Homo sapiens: one gene and its partners. The protein of the gene in region 2 binds, or shares a complex with, the protein of the main gene of each other region. Links are inferred from orthologs where the notes say so. Each region holds a gene or a part of one and is shown on either strand. Other genes may lie near its edges. The genes, in order: TNNC1, TNNI2 and TNNC2. A codon is read from its position in the direction of its gene.

Region 1 (8,061 bases), on a different chromosome or scaffold from region 2:
GCCAGGCTCTGCAGCCAGCCTGCCTAGGACAGGGAAGGAAGCGGCCATTGGGTAAGAGTGGGTCCTGGGGATGAGTCCACGGCCCAGGGACACCAGAGCCAGATAGCAGACCTTGGGAGAGCAGGCTTTATTTGCATCCCCCAGGACAGATCTGGGGAGGGAGTCGGGGGATTTGGGGTTGAGGACATGGCCAGGCTCAGGTCCTGGGACCCCGACCCCCTCCCCAACCCCAGGACTCAGCTGGAGTTGGAGGCTGGGCATAGGCAGCTCTGGGTGAAGGTCAGCATCTACTCCACACCCTTCATGAACTCCAGGAACTCTGTGGAAAGAGGGGCAGGTGTGGGTTGAGGGTAGGGGCTGGGCAGGGCATGGAGGCAGGAGATCAGCCCACCCACCCGCTTACCATCATAGTCGATGCGGCCGTCGTTGTTCTTGTCTCCGTCCTTCATGAGCTCCTCGATGTCGTCCTCCGTGATGGTCTCGCCTGTAGCCTGCAGCATTATCTTCAGCTCATCCAGGTCGATGTAGCCATCAGCATTTCTGTGGGGAGGGGGCTCAGGGTAGGGCTGTGGGGAGGGCATGAGGCAGCCCCACCCATGCCCCAGGAGGCAGAGCAGGGACACTGGGAGATGGGGCATCCCTCTCCCCTATCAGGCAGAGGCCACAGGGTCCCTAGGCCTGGAATCTGAGACTGCCCTCCTGTACAGCTCGGCTTGAGTGTGGGTCAGGGTCAGAGGTCAAGGGTCACGTGCTCACTTGTCAAACATGCGGAAGAGGTCAGACAGCTCCTCCTCAGATTTCCCTTTGCTGTCGTCCTTCATGCACCGAACCATCATGACCAGGAACTCATCAAAGTCCACCGTGCCGCTGCCTGGGGGTGGGCAGCATGGCCGTTACAGAGGCCAGGGTAGGTACTGCAGGCAGCACCTTCGACACGAACCCCCATGTTCTCACCGCATCCTCACACCAAACGCCAGGCTTGTGTAGCCCTTATGCCCATTTTATAGATGAGGCAACCAAGGCTCGGATAGGCTAAATTGCTCCCAGCTAAACAGAGCCAGCATTCCAGCCCCCAGCCAGCTGGGGTTCTTCTGGAGCCTGGGGAGGAGGGGGCTCACCGTCCTCGTCCACCTCATCGATCATCTCCTGCAGCTCCTCAGGGGTGGGGTTCTGGCCCAGCATCCTCATCACCTTGCCCAGCTCCTTGGTGCTGATGCAGCCATCCTCAGCGCCCAGCACGAAGATGTCGAAGGCTGCCTTGAACTCTGTGTTCAGGGGTTGGGGGGCACAGTAGTCAGGGCTCAGCAGCCAGGACCACGGAGGGCCAGAACCCTGGGGCCACCTGCCAACCTGCCCACCTCCCTCGGAGACCTCTCTGAGGGCAGAGCAAGAGGGACCAAGCCTCTGGTCTCTGGCCTGGGGTCCTCTTCTGATAAGGGGTCCCCATGCCAGCCTGGACCCGCTGGTCTCCCACATGTGTGATAGGGATTCTCACCATTTTTCTGCTCTTCTGTCAGCTGCTCTACCTAGAAAGGAAAGGGAATCTCAAGGCTCAGACTCAGGTATAGCTGCTGCTGAGGAAACCAACCCATTCCACAGGTGAGAAGGCTGGAGCTGGAGGAGGCAGGCTATTTCCAGGCCACAGAGTGGAGGTCTCAGTCCTCCCTCCCTGCCCCCAAAGCCCTGACGTGACCCAGCTGGCCTCACTGCGACTGGGCTCAGGGCCAGGGTGACAGGTGGGCACCCCCTTCAGGACCAAGGTGACCCTCAGTAACAATAGTCAGTGACCACTCAATGCCCTTTCGGCCCCTGATGAAACTCAAGCTGGGTGGCCCGAAGGACAGCTGTCCCTCAAGTTGGGATAATAAAACCAGTGTGGAGGCAGGCAAGCCACCCACGGTAACCTGACCAGGGTGGCCACTGGGCTATTTTTAACGAGGAACAAAGTTAAACCTGGTGATTGTTCTGGGGACTTTGGCATGCAGGGGGTGGGGCAGCGTTATCTGGCCCCCTGGCCTGCTAGTGCCGCCTCAGAAGCCAAAATTAGTCCCCAACTCCGCCAGGCCTTGTATGGGCACTGGGTGGAGGGCTGTCCCAACCCCGGCTCCATGGACTCCCACAGGATAAGCAGGCGTGCCCCCAGAGCTGGCTATAGCACTTCCCTGCCCAGGAGTGAGGGAGGCTGAGGGAGGGGTTCCCCTGGGGACAGCTGGCCATGCCAGGATGTCCTTGCTCTGGGGTTGGGGGAGGTCACCACCACCCAGGATAGAATAGCATCTGAAGACCCTCAGTGACCCAGGAGGTTGCAGGGGCTTGGGGTGACCACTCTCCAGCCCTCATTCCCTCGCTCTCACCCCTAGCTAAGCCACTGAGCCCTGAGCCTGCCAGGCATGATGGGAGCTGGGGCCCCAGTTCTCTGTTCCTTCTTCCTTGGTTCTCCCTCATGTCCAGAACTTCCCTGCCTCAAACTTCAAAGCCCCATCTCCAGCCCAGGACTCAGGCTCTACAGACCCCTCCTCTCACACCCTCCACCCTCCAAAGCATCTTCGGCCCGCCAAGGGGCTGGAGTGGGGTGGCAGATTTTGAGCATGTGAGAAGCAGAATGTGAGGGGCAGAAATGGGGGTTGGGGACAGGGAGACAGTAATGGGGACTCAGACAGCTCAGGAGGAAGAGATGAAAAGAGAAAGGCAAAAACGTCCAGAGACAAATGCAGAGACATGTGGCTGAGCGACAGTGCCACAGACCACAGACACTTGGAAACAGAGAGTGAGACACGATGCTGAAAGCTGCAACCTCCTCCACCACCCTTCAGACCCGGAACCCCCTACCCCTTCTGCATCCTCAAACACCAGAATCACTGTCCCTGTGAGGGCCTGGGTTGAAGGCACGTAGGCCTTCTCCTTGGTCCCCACCACTTCCCTGGGGCTACTAACCCCGCACTCTCAGCTGAGTGAGCCCCCAGTGGGCCTGCCCACCCCAGCCCTACCCAGCCCTGTCCCTCACCGCAGCCTTGTAGATGTCATCCATGCTGGCGGCTCACAGGACAGCTTGCTGGGGTTGCCAGCCGGCCCTTGACTTAAATAGCCCTGCCCCGCTGCATTCCTGGCCCAGCCCAGCCCAGCCCAGCCCACCCCTGCGTGTAGTATCCTCCAGCCCCTCCTCTGGTCCCAGTGATCTCAGGCTGGCCTGAGTCCCCACGTCCTCTGCCCAGGGCAGGGAGCAGACGAACGGCTACAAGGACCAGGTTTCTTTCCCTCCTGTCCCCCACACTCCCCAAAGGGACTCTCTGAAAAGGTTTCTGGAATGAATGAAAACATAAGCCCAGTGCAGGACAGGAGCTACAAAGTCGTGGGCCCCAGGCAAGGTGCAACACAACAGCTCAGGCTCCCATCCAACCAGGTTGGCGGGTTGCCATGACCTCCACTTTCCAGATAAGGAAACTGAGGCTCTGGAGGAGTGGTGACTTGCCCAAGATCTGACTGACTTGGTAACCCCCGCCTTTAACTAAACCTCTCTGGAATGGGGGTGCAATGTGCAAGGAGAGGCTAGGAGTGCAGGGCCCTGCCAAGAGAAGCCTCGAATGCCAAGCTCATAGTAAGATGCTGTGGAACTGGTGAAGGAGGAAGTGACTGACCCACCTTAGGACAGGGTGGCCAGGAGCCCTTCTGCCAGAGGAGCCTGTCCCAGACCTCCCATCTGCCCAGGGAGAAGTACCCACTTCGGGCTTAAGTCAGCTGCTCTCAGTTATTCAACAGCACCCCTATAGATGCCCCATCTGTGGCAGGCTCTTTCCCTCCTCACCCTCCAATTAGGTTACCACCTCCCTCTTCTAGGTCTCATCTTTCCCCGGTTTAGGATTCAGCACTGTAGTTCCTGGGTCCAGATCAACCTGTCTCCCTCGTTTTGAACTTTGGCAGGCCACCCCGTGGGGTTCTTGTGCTCAGTGGCAGCACACACCCCTCCATCCACCTACACCTTCCTTCGTACAGAGTTCGTATCAAGTTTATCCCTCTTGATAAACACGCTCCCTGCCTCGAGCACTACTGCGTGCTGGGCCGCGCATCAATCAACCCACTCAGTTGTCCAGAAGCCCCACTGACAAGAGATCTCCGAATCTCAGAGAGGTTCAGAACTGGCCCAGAATCACTCTCGCCCTGCTCCGGCGGTAAGCACAGGTCCTATTTTCCCCTCCAACCTGCCTTGCCCTAAAGAGAAAGAGCCCAACAGCCAGGTGAGGCACTATTATGGCCTCCTTTATCAGGAGGAGTAAACTGAGGCCAGGAAGAGCAGTGACTTGCTTCGTGTGGCCTGGGAGACTCGGGACCTTCTGTCCCCTCTTCCCGAGGACCCAGGGGCGATGCCCAGAGCTGTCACCACCCGGGGTCTCAGTTTCTAGCAGGCTGTGCAGGGTACCGCCGGCGGCGCCACGCAGGTAGATTACGCAAGCGAGCACCTCGCACGCGCGCCCTGAGTGGCCCCTGTCAGTCACGCGCGGGGGCGGGGCGAGGGCGCAGGAAGAAGGCGGGGCCAAGATGGCGGCGCAGCGCGCGGCGGGGGCGACGGGCGGCGGGGGCCGGGGGGCGGTGGGACGTTGACCCCGCCCCCTGCTGCTGCTAGTCTGCGCCGGGCGGCGGTGGCGGCGGAGACCCGAACATGGCGACCGCGCGCACCTTCGGGCCCGAGCGGGAAGCCGAGCCGGCCAAGGAAGCGCGCGTCGTGGGCTCGGAGCTTGTGGACACTTATACGGTGTGTTGGGGGCGCGGGCACCCGAAGCGGGGGTGGTGGCTGGAACCGGGAGTCCGACTCGGGGGCTTGGGGAGGGGTCCGGGATCTGCAGCCCCGAGGAGCGGGTAGAAGGGTCTGCGATTGCGAGGAGGGGGCTGGGACGGGGGATCTAGGAAAGGGATCTGGGCCCCGCAGGTCCGGGAGAAGGGTTGCTCGGGGCCCGGGGAGGCGGTTTGGAAAAGGGTACGCGATCAGAAAGGGAGGCTCGGGTTGGGGGCGGCATCTGGGGATAAAGGGGGCTTGGGGAGGGGGGTGTCTAGATGAGGCGGAACCCCTCTAGATCCTCTAGGACTGGAGGGGCCCCGGCCTGGAAGACCGTTACAGGGGTCCAGGAGGAAGGCGATGGGGAGAGGGTCTCTGATGGATGGAATCAGGGAAAAGGGTCAGGCTTCGCAGGCCTTGAAGAAAGAGAAGGCGTCAGGACCCTGATCTGGGGAGCCTGAGGTGGTGGTTGAGATTTTCTCTGAGAAGTGCAGGAGAGACCTGGGGAGCAGATGCCTTGGGGGTCGGGCGGAGACAAGACCGGAGGAGGGGTGGAGCCCATCTATGGAGAAATGGGGGTGGTCTCAGTGCTAAAGCGCAGGCCCTATAAGCCTTAGGAATCTTCGTGACTTTGGGCTGTGGGAGCGAGATGGGGCAACAAGCTGCCCACACACACTTCTAAGCTATGGGGGAGACAGAGGACAAATAGCGGGTAGTTCCCGACTTTGACGGGGTTGGATGCCAGGCCTGTGAGCCTGGTGGGCTGCCTGGCAAAAACCGGCCCTGGACTAGGCATAGAGCACCTCCCTGCCTCCTCCCCTTTGTTCCCGCAGGGTAGGGAGTGGGTGGGGGCCTTGGGCCTGCCTGCACCTCCCCTCCCTGGCCCTCATCCTAACCTTCCGCTCTGAGGGCCATTCTTCTGGCTCTTTTCTCCTTTCCTGAAGGCAAGGGGAAGGAATCAGGCAGGATGGGAAGAGGAGAGGGGTGGATCTTGAAGCAACAGGCCAGCCTGGAGAAATGGCTGCTCCTCAGGGCTGGAGGAGGCTTCAGCTCCATGCTGCAGAGAGGAGGGGGAAACTAGGTGCAGGAGGCGGGTGAGGTCTCTAAGCTGATGGCTGACTGGCCATCAGCTATGGGCACATTCAGCCAGAGGGCCATCTTCAAAAAGCTCACCCTATTCTGGACTGCGCCCCTCCTCTGCATGTATGTCGGGGGAGGTGGTGATCTAGTTTGGACCCTACCATCCTCTGTCTCCGGGTGTGCCGAGTTGGACATTATTAACACACCTACCTTTTGAACACTTGCCATGGGTCAGGCCCATGTACAAAGCATTTTACATGCATTGCCTTACTTGGTCCTTGATTCTAAGATGGAGGAACTAAGGCTCAGAGAGAACTTAGGCTCCAAGTTACTTATATAAGTGACACATAAGCTGCAGCCAGGAAATGGCAGAACCAGGTTTTTAACCCAGGCCTTCCTTAACCTCTAGGCCATATTGCCTCCTGATAGAGCTTAGTTGCTACCACTCCCTCCCCACATCAGCTGCTTGTGCCTTGATTCCTGGCTCAGCAGCAGAAATCACAGCCATGAACCAGTTGAAAGGGTTGGAAAATGACTTGCTTCCAGGAGGTAGTCAGGGCACCTGGAAAGAAGTACAACAGAGAAGATGCTCAGGCTAGAACTGGCCCTGCTCTGCCTCCCTTGGAAGAAATGGCCTTGCCTGCAGCTCCGGTTGGGTTTTGAGTTACCTAGAGGCAGGAGGTAAAAAACTAAAGAGGTGACTTGTGGTAATCACCTTTTTCATTCCTTACTGATGGATGGAGCCACATGCTTGTCTCATGTGCCTCCCAGCCCTAGTGCTTGGGCCATGGAGGAAGCTGAGAGGGGCCCTGCTGGTCAGCAAGGGTCAGGTGCAGAGGCTGGTGGGCAAGGGCAGCCTGACTTTGGCCTTGGGGTGGGTCTGAGTTGCAGAGAGAAAGACTGATAAAAGATAATTGGGAAAGATAATTGCAGCTTTTGCTGCTGGGGGAGGAGACTCCTTGTTGCTGGGCTCCCTTGCCACAAGGGCTGTTGGTTTCCCCTTTTAGGTTTACATCATCCAGGTCACTGATGGCAGCCATGAGTGGACAGTAAAGCACCGCTACAGCGACTTCCATGACCTGCATGAAAAGGTAACTGTTAAGAGCTGGGAGCACGTATCTCAGGGCTGGGGGACCCGTAGGCCAACTTTCCATTGTGCCACATATTAGTTTTAGGGCAAAACAGGTTCCATCTCTATAGTTCTTTAATAAACCACTTTGTTAATATAACTGCGTTCATTAATATAGCATGTAAATGCTAGCCTTCAGCTCTAGCATGAGCCACTCTGCAAGGAGCATATTTGAATTTCAGTTTTAATATTTCCAGTCCTAGCTTGGGTATGAGATGCTCAGACAGTTTCCTGGGAAGGGGACAGGTTTGAACTTGTTTGATCTAGCGATAGCTATTCCAAAGCCTTACTTTAATATCTGGCTGTGATTCCATCTCTTTTTTTTGCTTTTGGAGATGCTGTCTTTCTCTGGGTCATTTGCAGCATAACTGTTTTAAAGACACACCGCTGCCCTGATTGGTTTTTACTCTGGCTTGGAAAAGATGGCAATTTTAGGGGCAAAAGGTGTTACTTTTCTGAATGTCTCTAAAGTCTCCAGATGGAATTCCTTGTCTAGAATTGTATTGGTATTTCTAATGCTAATTGGATTTAAAGAGGCCAAATCCCAGGTGCACTAGTTTGGTCACTGATTTTGGTACTACTGCAGGGAGGGGCTGTGCAAGTGCTGACAAGCGCCTGCCCTCAAGCTTCTTGCCTTGGTCTTACATAGGCACAGAGCCTCTTAGTCTGTGGTTGATGTGCTTATGTTTTTTTACAGCTCGTTGCAGAGAGAAAGATTGATAAAAATCTGCTTCCGCCCAAAAAGATAATTGGGAAAAACTCAAGAAGCTTGGTGGAGAAGAGGGAGAAGGATCTGGAGGTCTACCTCCAGAAGCTCCTGGCTGCCTTCCCTGGCGTGACCCCCAGAGTACTGGCCCACTTCTTGCATTTTCACTTCTATGTAAGTTCCTCATCGGGTTTTCACCTGTGCCTGCAAACCCACAACTGCCAAACTTGAGGCAGCAAACCAGGGGAGACCTCAGCTTTGAGGTGGGCTGGGGTTTGACCCTAGGTTAGAAGATGGAGGAACGTCACCCTGGTTAGGAATGCATTGTGGCCAGAAGCATGTTAGTTGACAGATTTGCCGTAAATTAGACTAAATGTG
Region 2 (7,570 bases):
CTGCTCAGTGAGCTCCGCCGACAGCCAGCCCTGCTCCTCCCGCCATGACCCTGCAGACCCCTCTGGGCTTCCAAGTTCCTGGGGGCTGCAGTGAACATGCTCCACCTGCATGGCTGGCAAACCATGGTGGGCCCCAGCTGTGGTGCGTGCTGGGGTAGAGGCAAGGAAGTGATGGGACCGCAGAGATGAGACCCCCAGGGATGAGATGGGACCCCCAGGCAGGGCCCAGGGTCCAGGGCCCAGGAGAGAGAAGCAGGGAGGGAGAGAGCTTCCTGGTGGAGGACGCATCCTACAGTGGGGGCAAGGGTGCTCTGAGGTCCGGTGAAGGCAGGGACTAGGCTGCCCAGGCCCTGCCTGCTTGGCTGGGGCTGGGGGCTGCTGGGAGGTGGCTGGGAGGCTGGGCCTGGGCAGCTAAGCTGGAGCTTTGGCCAGGGTCCAGAGCCTCCCTCCCTTCAGCTTCCTGCTGCACAGAACCCTCGCCCCTGGCCACCCCGTGCTGCCTCCTTGCCCTGGCAGACCCAGCACTGGCTGCTGCTAGTCAGATGGGGTAGCGGGCAGGGGCCGGAGGGGCCACCCTCCCAGCTGACCCAGCCTCCTGGGCCGCTTCTTCCAAACCAGCAGGGTAGAAAGATGGGGCACCCACCAGTCTCTCCCAGTGCCCCGGCCCCAGCTGGCACCACAGCTATACCTGGGCTTATTCCAGACCTTGTCGCCGGGACCCCCTGTGAGTTGTGGGATTCCCAAGAGGGGTGTGGGGATAACCCAGCCAAGTGGGGGCTGCAGCTGTCCACAGATGCACTCAGCCTGGCCTCTACCCCAGGGCCCCGCTGGGCTCTCATTGCCGGCGCCCTTGCCGCGGGCGTCCTCCTCGTCTCCTGCCTCCTCTGTGCTGCCTGCTGCTGCTGCCGCCGCCACAGGAAGAAGCCCAGGGACAAGGAGTCCGTGGGTCTGGGCAGTGCCCGCGGCACCACCACCACCCACCTGGTGAGGAGCGGCTCCTTGCTCACTCAGTCCAGAGAGGGCTTGAAATCCAGGCTCCAGAGCCCAGGGCAGCGAGGCGAGTTCAGCCCCAGGGATGGTTTAACCCCCACAGAGGCAGGGCGTTGAGGACCTTCCTGGCAGGGAAAGTGGGTGAACAGAGGTGAGAAGGAGGCCATGCAACAGGGGCTGCCCCATGGGCCCGAGGGAGCCACAGCGGGTTCTTGAGGAAGGCAGGGGGTACCCCAGATGCCACGTTTTGGGTGGGTTTGGCCGGTCTCACAGAGCGAAGCCGACGATTTGTGCCTGTTGGGTGGCCTGGCCTGGAGGCGGGGGGTCTTGACCCATGTCATGCAAGGGCTGCCCGGGAGCCCAGGGCTCTGATGAGGCATGATGTCAGCACCACCTGCCCCTTGTCCCAACTCACTCCAGGTGCAACCTGATGTGGATGGCCTGGAGTCCAGCCCGGGGGATGCTCAGCAATGGGGGTGCCTGCAGCTCTCCCTGGAGTTCGACTTTGGAAGCCAGGAGGTGAAGGGCCCCGCTGCGCAGGACCAGCGGTTCTGCGAGTTTCCGGAAAGGGTGACGGGGGAAGGGCAGACCCCATGCCCTGGGTGGTGGGGAGCTGACAGGGCAGGGGCCCTTGGCTGAGCCCACCCCGCTGGCTCCCAGATCAGGGTGGGCCTGAGGCAGGCAGCCGACCTGAGGCCTGGGGGCACCGTGGACCCCTATGCCCGGGTCAGCGTCTCCACCCAGGCCGGACACAGACATGAGACAAAAGTGCACCGAGGCACGCTCTGCCCCGTGTTTGACGAGACCTGCTGCTTCCACGTGAGTCAGGGATGGTCGGCTGGGTGGGCCTGGACGGCTGGATGGGCCTGGGCTGGGTGGGCCTGGGCAGCTGGGTGGGCCTGGGCAGCTGGGTGGGCCTGAGCTAGGGCAGCAGGGCCTGGCTCACGCCGCTGCCTCAGATCCCGCAGGCGGAGCTGCCAGGGGCCACCCTGCAGGTGCAGCTTTTCAACTTCAAGCGCTTCTCGGGGCATGAGCCCCTGGGTGAGCTCCGTCTGCCACTGGGCACCGTGGATCTGCAGCATGTTCTGGAGCACTGGTACCTGCTGGGCCCGCCGGCTGCCACTCAGGTGAGGTGCTGGTCACCAGGCCACAGCCCAAGGCAGAGCTGGCAGGGACCCTGCCCTATGGGCCATCGGAAAGACAGGCCTGATGGGCAGCATTTTCGGGGGTCTGAGCCCCAACTCGGCCAGAATCACCCTCCCGGGCTGAAGCCCCTCTTGCTGCCCACAGCCCGAGCAGGTCGGGGAGCTGTGCTTCTCTCTCCGGTACGTGCCCAGCTCAGGCCGGCTGACCGTGGTGGTGCTGGAGGCTCGAGGCCTGCGTCCAGGACTTGCAGGTGAGGGTCACACCTGCCCACGTTGTTGTACAGAGGGGGGGCCCGTGCTCAGCCCCGAGCCCTGGGATGCCCCTTCGGCAACCTTGCCCTCCCAGAGCCCTACGTGAAGGTCCAGCTCATGCTGAACCAGAGGAAGTGGAAGAAGAGAAAGACAGCCACCAAAAAGGGCACGGCGGCCCCCTACTTCAATGAGGCCTTCACCTTCCTGGTGCCCTTCAGCCAGGTCCAGGTGGGCCACCGGGAGGCAGGGGCAGAGCGAGACCCAGTGCCAGACCACGATGACTGTGGTCTTTCTCCCCCAACTCCAACCTCTGGCCTGTCTCTGCACAGAATGTGGACCTGGTGCTGGCTGTCTGGGACCGCAGCCTGCCGCTCCGAACTGAGCCCGTAGGCAAGGTGCACCTGGGTGCCCGGGCCTCGGGGCAGCCCCTGCAGCACTGGGCAGACATGCTGGCCCACGCCCGGCGGCCCATTGCCCAGCGGCACCCCCTGCGGCCAGCCAGGGAGGTGGACCGCATGCTGGCCCTGCAGCCCCGCCTTCGCCTGCGCCTGCCCTTGCCCCACTCCTGAATGCACCACATGCCTCTGTCTCCCCGCTGAGCCCAGGCACTTGCCCAGGCCGCCCTGCAGGACCACTGCAATAAACGCCTTCTCCTGCCACTGTGTGTCCGGCTGGAGCCTGGAGGGGATGCAGAAATAGGGCCCGGGCCCGCTCACCAGGGTCCCCTGACAAGGACGGGGGAGGGGCTCCTCTCCAGACTCAGCCAGGCCCTGAGGCCTCTGACCGGTCCCTGCTTGACCCTCGGGTAGGGGTGGGGAACCTCCCCGGGGAGCACAGATCTCCCCTCTCCGGGCCGCCTGGGAAGACCGGGGAGGTGGGGGCCAGAGAGTCGGGACCACATGGGATGGGGCGGGCTAGAGCCAGCCCTGTAGGGACAGAGTGGGCAATGGTGTCTGGGGGCTGGTGAGCATGGAGGGAGGACCCCCAACACCTCAGAGACCTGTGCTGCAGGGCCTTCCCTGCATGAGCAGCAGGGGGCAGCAGATGCCTTCGGAAGCCGCTGGGGCCTTTAGGGGCTCAGTCCTGGCCGGATGCCCCTCCCAGTCCCCACACATCTGGGCTGCCTTAGCGGCTGGGGCCTCCACGCTGCTGTCTCCTCTGATCCTCCCCACGGGGCTGCGAAGCCGGCAGGGCTGGGGCCAAGAGCCCCCACTCCGAGAGGGTGCCAAGTCACGGTCCAGGGGACCTCTGCAGGGCGGGGGCCTGGGGGCTGGGGGGGCGATGGCCTCGGGCCTGGGTGAAAAGGGCAATGCCAGGCCTGCCCGGGCAGCCAGGAGGGCCCCAAGCCCCCACGGGTGTGAGAGGCTCCCAATGCAGGTGGCGCCATTCTCCTTAGGTTGAAGGATGTGTTCCAAGTCGCCCGGCAAGGGGACTGCAGCAGGGCGTTCTGGGCAGGCGGGAGGGGCCCAGAGGCACGTGCGGCGTGCCCCTCACTCCTGGTCCTGCTCCCCAGGCAGGAAGATAGCATCACGCAGGGAGGGGGCAGCCCCCAGCCCTCGGCCACTGTGGCAGGGCCCAGAAGGCCACATCTGGAGGTCCAGGCCTCACCCCAGAAGCCAGGCTTGCAGAAGGGGGTCAGGCCTGGGCTGAAGTGGGAAACCCATTGCAGGGGCTGAGCCGGGGAGCTGGCCCCGCAGGGAGAGGCTGTGGCTGTCGCCAGCAAGCAGCCAGGTTGGTGGACTGGACGCTGACCTCGGGTGAGATGGGCTGAGGCGAGGTGTGGATACTCGCAGCTACCCCTCAGCTGACCCGAGCTGTGTGCCCGGCTGAGGCCACAGGCAAAGCCAGGGACACTGTCCTCAGGCTCCTTACGAGAACGACAGAGGCATCTCCAGCGCGTCACCGAGCCCTAAATAGAGTAGCCCAGCCACGGCACCCCCCACCAAGACTTCTTGGACTGGGCGGCAGCACGCGGCCAGGCCAGGCGGCCGGACAGGTGGGGAGGTCTCTGTGGCTCTCCACGCCCCCATTGGTCTGAGGAGGACTCTATGCCCTTTCTGAGCAGGGGCCCAGCCTGGGGGAGGCCATTTATACCCCTCCCCCTGGGCCCACCAGCCCAACTCGCCGCTGCCGGCCTGACCTCGCTCCCAGCCCTGCTGCCCAGATTCTAGGTGAGGCCCAGCCCGGCCCGCCGAGGCCGGGGGACAGGGCGTGGCTCGAGCTGGTTTGAGGGAGGACTTCCTGGGGCGGGGGTCTGGGGGCCTGGGGGATGCCACCAGCAGCCCCCTTTGGGGCCTGCACGGGTCCGGGAGTGAGAAGGAGAGGCTTTGGGGAGGCAGCTGTAGCGAGAGGCAGGTATTAGACACTCCCTGACCACCAGGCTTCACCTCTGGGGACCCTGGAAGGAGAGTTTAGGGGTCAAGAAGCCCCAGAACCTGAGCCCCCAGGCCAAACTGAGGAGGGATTTCTTCCATGCACTTAGGCCCAAAGCCAAAGAGAGAGGGTTAAAAATAACAGCGTCACTCAGGCGGCCACCTGCGCTGGCCCATCCCACCCTCCCTCGGGGACAGCTGCAGCTCCTCAGGCTATGCCTGGGACATTTTGGGAACACTTTCTCCTCTTACTTCTCACCCTGGGGAATTCCAAGACATTGTCCTTGAAGGAGGTGAGAGTAGGGGGAGGAGGTGAGAGTAGGGGGTGGGCGGGAGGGGGCTGTCATCAGGAGCCCTGAACCCCTCACCACCTACCTGATGGGCACAGGCATCACGGTGGCAAGGGCCTGGCCAACACCTCTGTCTTCCTCTCCCCACAGGCTCCAAGCTCAGGACCTCAGGATGGGAGAGTAAGTGGTACCCCTGTACCCCCATACAGTGACCCTGCCCACCTCCTGCCCTGTCCACCCCATCACACACTCCGACCCCGCCAGCCATGGCCCTAACCTCTGTCTTCTCTCCCCGTCCTGCCTGCGTCCTCCCTCCCTGGACAGTGAGGAGGTAAGTAGTTGCTGGGGGCTCAAAACATGACGAGGAGGGGGCTCCCCCAACTCAGCATAGGTCATAGGTCACAGCCTCAAGGCCCTAAGGCCCAGAGAAGATGGCCTGGCCCTCCCCGCTGGCAAAAGTGCCCCACCCACCCACCAAGACGCTGCTGAAAGAGAGGAAGTGGCTGCCCCAAGCCTTCTGGGGCAGGGGAAGTGTGGCTGTGGCCTGGTCACAGGGGAATCACTTCTTCTTTCTGATTCCTGCACTTCCCGCCCCCACCTCACCGGCCGACCTGCCCCCAACTGGCCCTCCTCTCCCCCAGCCTCTGGCCTCCCAGCACCATGTGCCACCTGGCAAAGTGTCACACACCACACAGCACCATGTCCCAGTGCAAGGTCTGGGGCCAGGGAGGCCCAGCCTGCCCATCATGGCCTCAGGAGCCCCCAGGCTCTGCTGGTCCCGGAGCCGGAGCCCCTGACCTGGCCAGGGAGCGTGGAAGGGGGTGGGGGTGCTCCAGGCCTGGAGGCCCTGACTCGACCCCCTGTCCCCTGCCCTGCAGAAGCGGAACAGGGCCATCACGGCCCGCAGGCAGCACCTGAAGGTAGGTGTGGGCTCCCGGGGGGGTGGCCCAGGTGGGTCTGCAGGGGAGCTGGCTGCAGCCCCTCACCGCCTGCCCCACCGCAGAGTGTGATGCTGCAGATAGCGGCCACGGAGCTGGAGAAGGAGGAGAGCCGCCGTGAGGCAGAGAAGCAGAACTACCTGGCGGAGCACTGCCCGCCGCTGCATATCCCGGGCTCCATGTCTGAAGTGCAGGTACCAGCCCCTCCCCGGCCACCCCGCCTCCCCAGCAGCAGGCCTGCCTGCTAACTCAGTTTCCCCACTTGTCAAGAGGGCCAGTGGGGTGGTCAGGGCAGGGGCAGGTGACCGTGGCTGCCAAGTGTCAGGACGGCCGCCCGCCCCCACACCCACCCCTAGGAGCTCTGCAAACAGCTGCACGCCAAGATCGATGCGGCTGAAGAGGAGAAGTACGACATGGAGGTGAGGGTGCAGAAGACCAGCAAGGAGGTGAGTGGTGGCGGCGGGCCGGCGGCAGGCGGGTAGGCGGTGGCCCAGCGGGCAGGCGGGGCGGGCCGGGGAGGCCGAGACCACCGGGACCTCGGGCTCCCACCCGGCTCCCCTGCCCACAGCTGGAGGACATGAACCAGAAGCTATTTGATCTGCGGGGCAAGTTCAAGCGGCCCCCACTGCGGAGGGTGCGCATGTCGGCCGATGCCATGCTCAAGGCCCTGCTGGGCTCGAAGCACAAGGTGTGCATGGACCTGAGGGCCAACCTGAAGCAGGTCAAGAAGGAGGACACAGAGAAGGTGCGTGCCACGGGGGGAGCACCACCACACCTACCCTGCCGGGGAAGCACCTCCCACACCTGCCCCGCCTGGGGACCACCTCCCACACCTGCCCTGCCGGGGGCCCTGTACCACTGCCCCTCCAGGGTGCCATGCAGGGGACACTCCACTGCCCAATGCAGAGGGTAAACTGAGGCTGAAGGTGGTGTGGACCAGGGTGCGTGCATAAGTGGGTGAGCCTGAGCTCTCTCCTGCCCTCTCCTCCACAGGAGCGGGACCTGCGAGACGTGGGTGACTGGAGGAAGAACATCGAGGAGAAGTCTGGCATGGAGGGCCGGAAGAAGATGTTTGAGTCCGAGTCCTAGGCCACTCGCTGCCCCTACGCCTGCCCCGGTGCCCGGCTCCCAGCAGAACATACTAGGGAGATGCACCCAGAGCCTGCCAGGGAGGGCTGGCCTCACCACCACCGTCAATAAAGGATTTGAATCCCCATGGCTGGTCTGGTCTGGCTCTCCCCAGCCTCTTGGGCCATGCTCTGGGCCCCCGCATCGGTGGCCTGCAGTGTGGTCAGTGGCCAGCGGGGAAAGCCTGGGAGGAGGCCACACGGGGCCTGGGATTTCAGGTTGGGAGGGAAGCTGCTTCCAGCAAGGAGGTGAGCCTGGGAAGGCCCCTACAGGGGAATCCACCCCAGGCTGCACGGGGCTGTTTGGTGAGGGCCCTGATAGTGCCCCAGGCGTTCCTGGGGCTCGGCCTGGGCACATCCAACATGCAGGGCTGGGGATGGAGGCTGTGGGACCGAGCCAGGTCTGGGTGGGAGTTCCTGAGATAAGTGGGTCTCACATTTGCACAGCCACGCAAA
Region 3 (7,967 bases), on a different chromosome or scaffold from region 2:
CTGCCGGCCGGGTTCTGACTGCTAAGCCCCTCCCTCGGCTCCCGGGCCCCCAGCGCACCTGTCGAAGATGCGGAAGCACTCGGCCAGCTCCTCCTCGCTCTTCCCTTTCGCGTCCTCTTTCATCTGGCGCACCATCATGACCAAGAACTCCTCGAAGTCGATGGTGCCGCTGCCTGCGGGCAGCAGGTGGCAGACTGAGCCTGAGCCCAGCCGCTGCCGCCTCTCCCCACCATCCCCTGCCTCCGAGGGACACCCGCTCACCGTCCTCATCCACCTCCTCGATGATGGCGTCCAGCTCCTCCTTGGTGGGTGTCTGGCCCAGCATCCTCATCACCGTGCCCAACTCCTTGACGCTGATGTCCCCACCACCATCAGCATCAAACATGTCAAAGGCAGCCTTGAACTCTGCGAGGGAGGGCAGAGGGCAGAGGTGAGGCCTGCTGGACTGTCAGCCTCACACCTACCCCCCCCCAACCCCCACCCTGCCTAGAGGCCAACATGTCCCCAGCATACATCCACCCAGCCCCCAGCCTGCCGCGCCTCACTCACCAGCGATCATCTCTTCGCTGAGGTAGGACCTGGCCTCAGCCTGCTGGTCCGTCTGCAGGAGACACAGAGAAAGTCTGAGCTGAAGAGGCAGCCCCAGAGCAGTTCCTCACCTCAAAGCCATTCTTCCCAACCCCCACTCTGTCAGCGCCCTTGGTTCTCCAGAAGAACAACTTCAAACTTGTCACATAATTGTGTGCCCGCACAGCACCCAATCACAGTTTTGTTTTGTCTCGTTCTGTCACACATGCTGGAGTGCAGTAGTGTGATCATAGCTCACTGCAGCCTCAACCTCCTGGGCTCAAGCAATCGTCCCACTTCAGCCTCCTGAGTAGCTGGGACTATAGCATACACCACGCCTAATTTTTAAAATTTTTTGTAGAGATGGGGTCCCACTATATTACCCAGGCTGGTTTTGAACTCCTGGGTTCAAGTGATCCTGCCACCTCGGCCTCCCAAAGTGCTAGGATTACAGGCTTGAGCCACTGTGCCCAGCTTCTGACCCCAGTTTTTGTTTTTGCTTTTTGTTTTTGTGACAGTCTCGCCCTGTCGCCCAGGCTGGAGTGCAATGGCGTGATCTCGGCTCACTGCAACCTCCACCTCCTGGGTTCAAGCGATTCTCCTCCCTCAGCCTCTCGAGTAGCTGGGATTACAGGCATGCGCCAACACGCCCAGCTAATTTTTGTATTTTTAGTAGAGACGAGGTTTTACCATGTTGGCCAGGCTGGTCTTGAACTCCTCACATCAGGTGATCCGCCCACCTCGGCTTCCCAAAGTGCTGGGATTACAGGCGTGAGCCACCATGCCCGGCCTGACCCCAGTTTTTTTTGTTTGTTTGTTTTGTTTTGTTTTGAGACGGAGTTTTGCTCTTGTTGCCTAGGCTGCAGTGTAATGGCACGATCTCAGCTCGCCACAACCGCAACCCCCACCTCCGGGGTTCAAGCGATTCTTCTCCCTCAGCCTCCCGAGTAGCTGGGATTACAGGCATGCACCACAACGCCCGGCTAATTTTGTATTTTTAGTAGAGATGAGGTTTCTCCATGTTGGTCAGGCTGGTCTCGAACCCCCTACCTTAGGCGATCTGCCTGCCTCAGCTTCCCAAAGTGATGGGATTACAGGCGTGAGCCACCGCGCGCAGCCTGTGACCCCAGTTTTGAGCAAAAGAGAGGAGACAACAAGTTAAGCCCAAGGCCTTCTCACTTGTCAATTGAAGGCCAAGTCGGGAACCCCCCCCACCCCCCAGTGACCTTAGGCACGTCAATTAGCGTGCCTTCATCTTTTCTCTGTAGCTTTTCAGGGATGAGATATCAGGGGTGTGAAAGGGCTTTGTAAAGGGCTAGCACCATTCCAGCACTATTTTCCAGTTTTCTGCAGCTCCTAATGGTGCCCGGTACTTTAATAGTTGCTCAATAAAATGTTTGTTCTCAAATAAATAATAATGCAACACAAAGTTATTGAGTACTTGCTGCATGTCAGGCCACAGATCAGGCACTGGAACCACAAAGAAGAGATAAAAGACACATCATCCCGCCCCTCAGAGAACTGGCAGAGTCGGAGGCTGTCAGCTTCCTTCTTAGGATTCAGTCATTGGAGAAAAGGCCCCTCATGGGGGGCCGAATGTGATGGAGGCCTTGACATGAAAGTGAGATTTCTGCAGGGGTTTCCACGTCATATCCAAGCCAGGCCATCTGGGTCAGAGGCTTTGGATTGAGGCTGGCAGTGAGGACAGGGTGAGGCTTCCAAGGAGCTCTTCAGCCAGCTGGCCACCAGTGCTCCTCCTTCTCCCCCTCCTTCCTCTCCTCCTCTTTCCCTATGCCAGGAGGGCAGGCTATTTTTAGTCAGGCATGGGCAACAGCAGCTGGCCTCTGGGATCTAGTTACTCCTTGAAGTGAAGTGGGGAGGGGGATCTCAGACCAAAACAACAGCTCCAAATCAGAAGCCCTCTCTAGGAGAGCGGAGTCTCTCTAACTCTGGTCTGTCATCTTCTGCCCCTTCCCATCATCCTCAGGGCTCCCAGAGCCCTGCATCTGAGCAGGCCCCACGCCCTGCCGGCCTCCCGTCTTCTGGAGGAGGCTTTCTTCTCTCCATGATGATAGGAGGGTTTGGCCAGGCTTCTGGCTCACCCCTGCCACTGGCCTGCTGGGTGACTCACTCTGACCCCTCAGAGTCCCCACTGTGTGAAGGAAACAAGCTAAGAGCTCTTCACAGGTCTATGAATGACACTGCTGGAAGTTTCCAGAAGTGAGTAGGCAGTCAGCAAGCCTTAAGGATCAATCTCTGGAATATCCCAGCCCTCCCCTTTCAAGAAAAGTCAAAGGCCTTCCTCCAAGACACCTGGGTTCCAGGAACCTCCATGCTCCAACCTCAAACATCCAAGTTACTGCCCCACAGAGCACCCAGGCCTGGCCTGAAAGGGGTCCAGAGTGCTCCCGTGAGTAAAGGCACAAAGTCCCCTCTTGTCCTTACCATGGTTGCTGGTGACCGGGACTCCTCTGTTGCAGGTCGCCTCCTTTGCACTCCACCACCCAAAGATGACCTGGCCTGCTCTAGCCCCCGGGATTTGTAGGGGCACCCTCCCCTCCCACCTCCCTGCTCCCCAGCACTGGAGACCCTGCCCAATCAGATCCTGGGGTCAGCGAGTCCCACCCCTCCCACAGTCTGAACCCATTACCTAATTTAGCCAAGGGCCCTTGCAGAGAAATTTAAGCCTCCAAGCAGGTGGCAGGCCTTGACGTCCTAGATTCTTGTGAGGAAGGCCTGCCCTGTTCCACTGCCTTGGAGTCCCCCCGACCGAGGAAGCACACTGGCTCCAAGATGGTAAGGATGATCAGAGTAGTAAAGGGTGAGGCAGCATGGTAAAATGGGGAGAGTACAAGCCTTGAAGTCCAAAACCCAAGATCCAAGGCCAGCCTCTGCGAGTTGTGTGACCTTGGGCCGGTAGCAGTGCCTCTCTGAGCCATTTCTTCATCTGTGGGATTGGACCTGTCTGTGGGGTCTCCCTCACAGAGAGACCATGGTAAATGGGAACCCGGGTATAAGTCACCTAGCTTGTGCTGGGTACACAGCGTTGGTGCTTGGCAAGAGGAATGTCCCGTCTTTGAACCATGGTAAGGGGCAGGGGATAGGAGGAGAAAGTGACAGGTAGGCCACTGTTTACTGAACCCCATGACGTGCCACACACTGTGCTAAGCATTTTAACATGATCTCATCTAGTGCTCCTCCTATGAGGTAGCAACGATTATCCCCACTTGACTGCAGAGCTTTGTAAATTATAAAGGTCTATACTCACTCTGTCACCAAGGCTGATGTGCAGTGGTGCTATTATAGCTCACTGCAGCCTCTATCTCCTGGGCTCAAGTGATCCTCCCACTTCAGCCTCCCGAGTAGCTGGGACTAGAGGTGCACCACCACCCCTGGCTTTTTTTTTTTTTGTATTTTTATAGAGATGGGGTTTCACCATGTTGCCCAGGCTGGTCTCGAACTCCTAGGCTCAGGGGATCCTTCCACCTTGGTTTCCCAAAGTGCTAGAATTACAGTCATGAGGCACCATGCCCACCCATGTTGATGATTCTTATTATTAATCCTGACTGGAGGGAAGTTGGGACAGACAGTCCTTGGGGCACCTGTCCAGATGGAAAAATGTATGGAGGGATGGAGGAGAGGAGGATGTGCATTTGGAGGAGAAATAATCATTGAAAGCAAAGATCCTTCTCTGAAAGTTACCTTCTCCAGGGAAAGGGTGTTTGGATTCACTTTTTTTGAAGTAAGGAGTAGGCAGGGGAAGGTTCTTTAAGTGGTAAAAGGACAGCTGGCCCCTTCCTAGAGCTCAGTGAAGAAATCTGGTCATCTGGGGAGTAAAGGGGTGGGCAGACCAAGTCCAGAGGGAGCCCAACCTGAGAATCCACAAGGTGCAGGCTGGGCACTGGGGAGTAGGCAAGGCTTGTAGACAGTGGCTACGTGGACAGAAAGAGCACCAAGACAACCGATAGCAGGCTCTGGGGCCAGGAAAGGGGGGCTGGACACCAAGGAATGCAGATGGACAGTGGCAACTGGGCTGCCCCCTTCCCCTATATATAGACATTCCCAAGGAAAGCTCAGCAGGGCTGGGCCAAGCTAAATAAGGCCTCCCCCAGGCAGGCAGGGTGCCAAAGGGTGAGGGAGACCCATGGGATTCCAATTTAGTTTTTATTGTTTTTTGGTTTTTTGGGGTTTTGTTTTTGAGACAGACTCTCACTCTGTCACCCAGGCTGGAATGCAGTGGCACAATCTCGGCTCACTGCACCCTCCGCCTCCTAGGTTCAAGTGATTCTCATGCCTCAGCCTTCTGAGTAGCTAGGATTACAGGCACATACCACTACGCCCAGCTAATTTTTGTTTTTGGTTTTTTTTTTTTTTTTTTTTTGAGACAGAGTTTTGCTCTTGTTGCCCAGGCTGGAGTACAATGGTGCAATCTCGGCTCACCACAACCTCCGCCTCTTGGGTTCAAGCAATTCTCCTGCCTCAGCCTCCCGAGTAGCCGGAATTACAGGCATGAGCCACCATGCCCGGCTAATTTTGTATTTTTAGTAGAGACAGGGTTTCTCCATGTTGGTCAAGCTGGTCTCAAACTCCCAACCTCAGGTGATCCGCCCACCTCAGCCTCCCAAAGCACTGGGATTACAGGTGTGAGCTACCACACCCGGCAAATTTTTTACTTTTTGTAGAGACAAGGTTTCATCGACCGGGCACGGTGGCTCAGGCCTGTAATCCCACCACTTTGGGAGGCTGAGATGGGCGGATCACGAGGTCAGGAGATCGAGACCATCCTGGCTAACACAGTGAAACCCCATCTCTACTAAAAATACAAAAAAATTAGCCGGGCATGGTGGTGGGCGCCTGTAGTCCCAGCTACTTGGGAGGCTGAGGCTGAGGCAGGAGAATGGTGTGAACCTGGGAGGCAGAGCTTGCAGTGAGCCGAGATCACACCACTGCACTCCAGCCTGGGCAACAGAGCAAGACCCCGTCTCAAAAAAAAAAAAAGTTTCATCATGTTGGCCAGGCTGGTCTCAAACTCCTGACCTCAAGTGATCCGCCTGCCTCAGCCTCCTAAAGTGCTAGGATTACAGGCATGAGCCCCTGAGCCCAGCCTTTGTTCTTTTGTTTATTCAAGGGATTAGGTAAGGCCCAAATTGCTTAATGTAGCCAAGCAAGGTCCCATTGGCCCTTCTAATCTCACTCCTTCCCTCCACATCATGTTGCTGTCTGCTCTGATCAGACTTTAAAATACTGCTCTAGGCTGGGCACGGTGGCTCATGCCTGTAATCCCAGCATTTTGGGAGGTGCAGGCTGGCAGATCACGAGGTCAGGAGTTCGAGACCATCCTGGCCAGCATGGTGAAACCCTGTCTCTACTAAAAATACAAAAAATTGCTGCTGGGTGTGGTGGTGGGCGCCTGTAGTCCCAGCTACTTGGGAAGCTGAGGCAGAAGAATCACTTGAACCTGGCAGGCGAAGGTTGCACTGAGCCAAGATCATGCCACTGCTCTCCAGCCTGGGCGACAAAAGGAGACTGCATCTCAAAAAAAAAAAAAAAAAAAAAAAGACTACTCTAAACACCACCTTCTATGAACCTTCAAGCCTTTGCACATGCTGTTTTTTTCTGCCAGAAACTCCCATCTTTCCTCTCTTCATCTGTCTACTTCCCTATCATCTTTCTAAGCTCTAACATCACTTCCTCGGGGATCCTTCCCCCACTGTGTCCAGACCAGGGAGTCCAAGGTGGTCTCTAGTAGTTTCCTCAATCATAGCACTGAGCATACCTTATGCTCACAACCCATTCTATGTTCTACAGATCATCACATTTCCCAGTGCTCAGCACTTGCTATGTAGCAGGTGTTCAACAGATATTATATTCTACATAAGAATAACTGAACTGGATGGTATTTAGTTCAATATAAGGGGGAACTTCCTAATAGTCATAGTTGAACAATAATGGGAACAGGTGGCCTCAGGAGGTAATGAGCTCCGTATCACTGAGTATACCCAAACAGGAGCTAGATGACCATTTCTCAGGGAGGCTGTAGGGAGATATCCATACAGAATTTAAGAATGGGGGCAGTGGCTCACACTTTTAATCCTAGCACATTGGGAAGCTGAGGCAGGTGGATCTCTTGAGCCCAGGAGTTCAATACCAGCCTGGGCAACATGGCGAGACGCTGTCTCCAATTAAAAAATTAAAATAAAACAAAGAATGGTGGGTGGTAGCTCATACTTGTAATCCCAGCACATTGGGAGGCAGAGGTAGGAGGATCTCTTCAGGCCAAGAGTTCAAGATCAGCCTGGGCAACATGCAACCCCACCTTTACAAAAAATAAAATACTAGCCAGGCATGGTGGGCACATATCTGTAGTCCCAGATACTTGGGAGGCTGAGGTGGGAGAATCACTTGAGCCCAGGAGTTTGAGGCTGCAGTGAGCTATGATCGCACCCCTGCACTCCAGCCTCACAACAGAGTGAGACTCTGTCTCTGAAAGAAGAGGCCGGGCACGGTGGCTCATGTCTCTAATCCCAGCACTTTGGGAGGCTGAGGCAGGTGGATCATTTGAGGTCAGCAGTTCGAGACCAGCCTGGCCAACATGGTGAAACCCCATCTCTACTAAAAATACAAAAATTAGCCGGGTGTGGTGGCACATGCCTGTAATTCCAGCTACTTGGGATTACTTGTAATTCCAGCTACTTGGGATTACTTGAGGCAGGAAAATCGCTTGAACCCAGGAGATGGAGGTTGTAGTGAGCCAAGAGTGTGCCATTGGACTCCAGCCTGGGTGATGGAGTAAGACTCTGTCTCAAAAAAAATAAAATAAATAAAAATAAATAAAAAAGGAAGAAGAAGCAGGAGGAGGAAGAAGGAAGCAAAAAGAAGAAGAAATAATAATAGTGGAGAATGCGCAACCTTCAGATCTCCTAGTTCTGACTGTTTATATGACCCAGCATAAGCCCTTCCCCTCACTAAGCCTCAGACTACCTATCTGTAAAATGGAGGTGATAGGCCAGATTTCTGAGGGGCCCTCCTGCTCTAACAACCCATGGTTTCATGAAGACCAGCTTTGTGCCCAGACATGTAAGGCATATACCGAAGGACAAGTTATTTTTTAACCAATGGTTGGTGAATGAGTGAGTGTTGAATTAATGAATGAAGTATGCCTTTTTTGTCCCAATATCTTGCCCATAAGCCAAATGAAGAGTAATTCGAGGTTTGAAATTGTGCAAACTGGCCAGGCACAGTGGCTCACGCCTGTAATCCCAGCACTTTGGGAGGTAGAGGCAGGTGGATCACTTGAGGCCAGGTGTTCCAGATCAGCCTGGCCAATATGGTGAAACCCCACCTCTACTAAAAATACAAAAATTAGCCGCATGGTGGCACATGCCTGTAGTCCCAGCCAC

What was found.
Region 1: the proteins of TNNI2 (region 2) and TNNC1 are in contact, whole or in part, in an NMR structure (PDB 2MKP), measured with the Homo sapiens proteins. Residues at the interface, in NP_001139301.1 of Homo sapiens: Arg116, Met117, Ser118, Ala119, Asp120, Ala121, Met122, Leu123, Ala125, Leu126, Leu127, Lys130, His131, Lys132; in NP_003271.1 of Homo sapiens: Asn18 (codon at 1,499), Glu19 (codon at 1,496), Phe20 (codon at 1,263), Ala22 (codon at 1,257), Ala23 (codon at 1,254), Ile26 (codon at 1,245), Val44 (codon at 1,191), Met45 (codon at 1,188), Met47 (codon at 1,182), Leu48 (codon at 1,179), Gln50 (codon at 1,173), Pro52 (codon at 1,167), Glu56 (codon at 1,155), Phe77 (codon at 845), Met80 (codon at 836), Met81 (codon at 833), Cys84 (codon at 824), Met85 (codon at 821), Lys86 (codon at 818), Asp87 (codon at 815).
Region 3: the proteins of TNNI2 (region 2) and TNNC2 are in contact, whole or in part, in a crystal structure (PDB 1A2X), measured with the Oryctolagus cuniculus proteins. The link is inferred for Homo sapiens from one-to-one orthologs. Residues at the interface, in NP_001076252.1 of Oryctolagus cuniculus: Glu5, Asn8, Arg9, Ile11, Thr12, Arg14, Arg15, Gln16, His17, Leu18, Lys19, Ser20, Val21, Met22, Leu23, Ile25, Ala26, Glu29, Leu30, Glu33; in NP_001076114.1 of Oryctolagus cuniculus: Ser13, Glu15, Met16, Ala18, Glu19, Ala22, Lys91, Leu96, Glu98, Cys99, Arg101, Ile102, Phe103, Arg105, Ile119, Phe120, Ala122, Ser123, Glu125, His126, Val127, Glu131, Ser134, Leu135, Asp138, Phe152, Met155, Met156, Val159, Gln160.

Annotation. Positions count from the first base shown.
Region 1 is NC_000003.12:52,450,988-52,459,048, forward strand, and holds TNNC1 (troponin C, slow skeletal and cardiac muscles), read right to left. Parts: upstream 3,055-8,061; 5' UTR 3,029-3,054; coding exon 3,005-3,028; intron 1,527-3,004; coding exon 1,496-1,526; intron 1,266-1,495; coding exon 1,119-1,265; intron 872-1,118; coding exon 757-871; intron 541-756; coding exon 404-540; intron 320-403; coding exon 288-319; 3' UTR 113-287; downstream 1-112. Other genes in the region: NISCH (nischarin), read left to right, coding at 4,655-4,747, 6,856-6,939, 7,675-7,857. UniProt on the Homo sapiens protein: Troponin is the central regulatory protein of striated muscle contraction. Tn consists of three components: Tn-I which is the inhibitor of actomyosin ATPase, Tn-T which contains the binding site for tropomyosin and Tn-C.
Region 2 is NC_000011.10:1,834,476-1,842,045, forward strand, and holds TNNI2 (troponin I, fast skeletal muscle), read left to right. Parts: upstream 1-4,505; 5' UTR 4,506-4,558; intron 4,559-4,993; exon of another isoform or gene 4,994-5,052; intron 5,053-5,199; 5' UTR 5,200-5,221; coding exon 5,222-5,229; intron 5,230-5,373; coding exon 5,374-5,380; intron 5,381-5,731; exon of another isoform or gene 5,732-5,748; coding exon of another isoform or gene 5,749-5,763; intron 5,764-5,927; coding exon 5,928-5,969; intron 5,970-6,052; coding exon 6,053-6,181; intron 6,182-6,343; coding exon 6,344-6,433; intron 6,434-6,555; coding exon 6,556-6,732; intron 6,733-6,980; coding exon 6,981-7,076; 3' UTR 7,077-7,203; downstream 7,204-7,570. Other genes in the region: SYT8 (synaptotagmin-8), read left to right, coding at 110-142, 619-724, 821-984, 1,411-1,509, 1,651-1,809, 1,950-2,117, 2,281-2,386, 2,482-2,615 and 1 more. UniProt on the Homo sapiens protein: Troponin I is the inhibitory subunit of troponin, the thin filament regulatory complex which confers calcium-sensitivity to striated muscle actomyosin ATPase activity.
Region 3 is NC_000020.11:45,824,234-45,832,200, forward strand, and holds the start of TNNC2 (troponin C, skeletal muscle), read right to left. Parts: upstream 3,080-7,967; 5' UTR 3,016-3,079; coding exon 3,013-3,015; intron 602-3,012; coding exon 550-601; intron 406-549; coding exon 262-405; intron 174-261; coding exon 59-173; intron 1-58. UniProt on the Homo sapiens protein: Troponin is the central regulatory protein of striated muscle contraction. Tn consists of three components: Tn-I which is the inhibitor of actomyosin ATPase, Tn-T which contains the binding site for tropomyosin and Tn-C.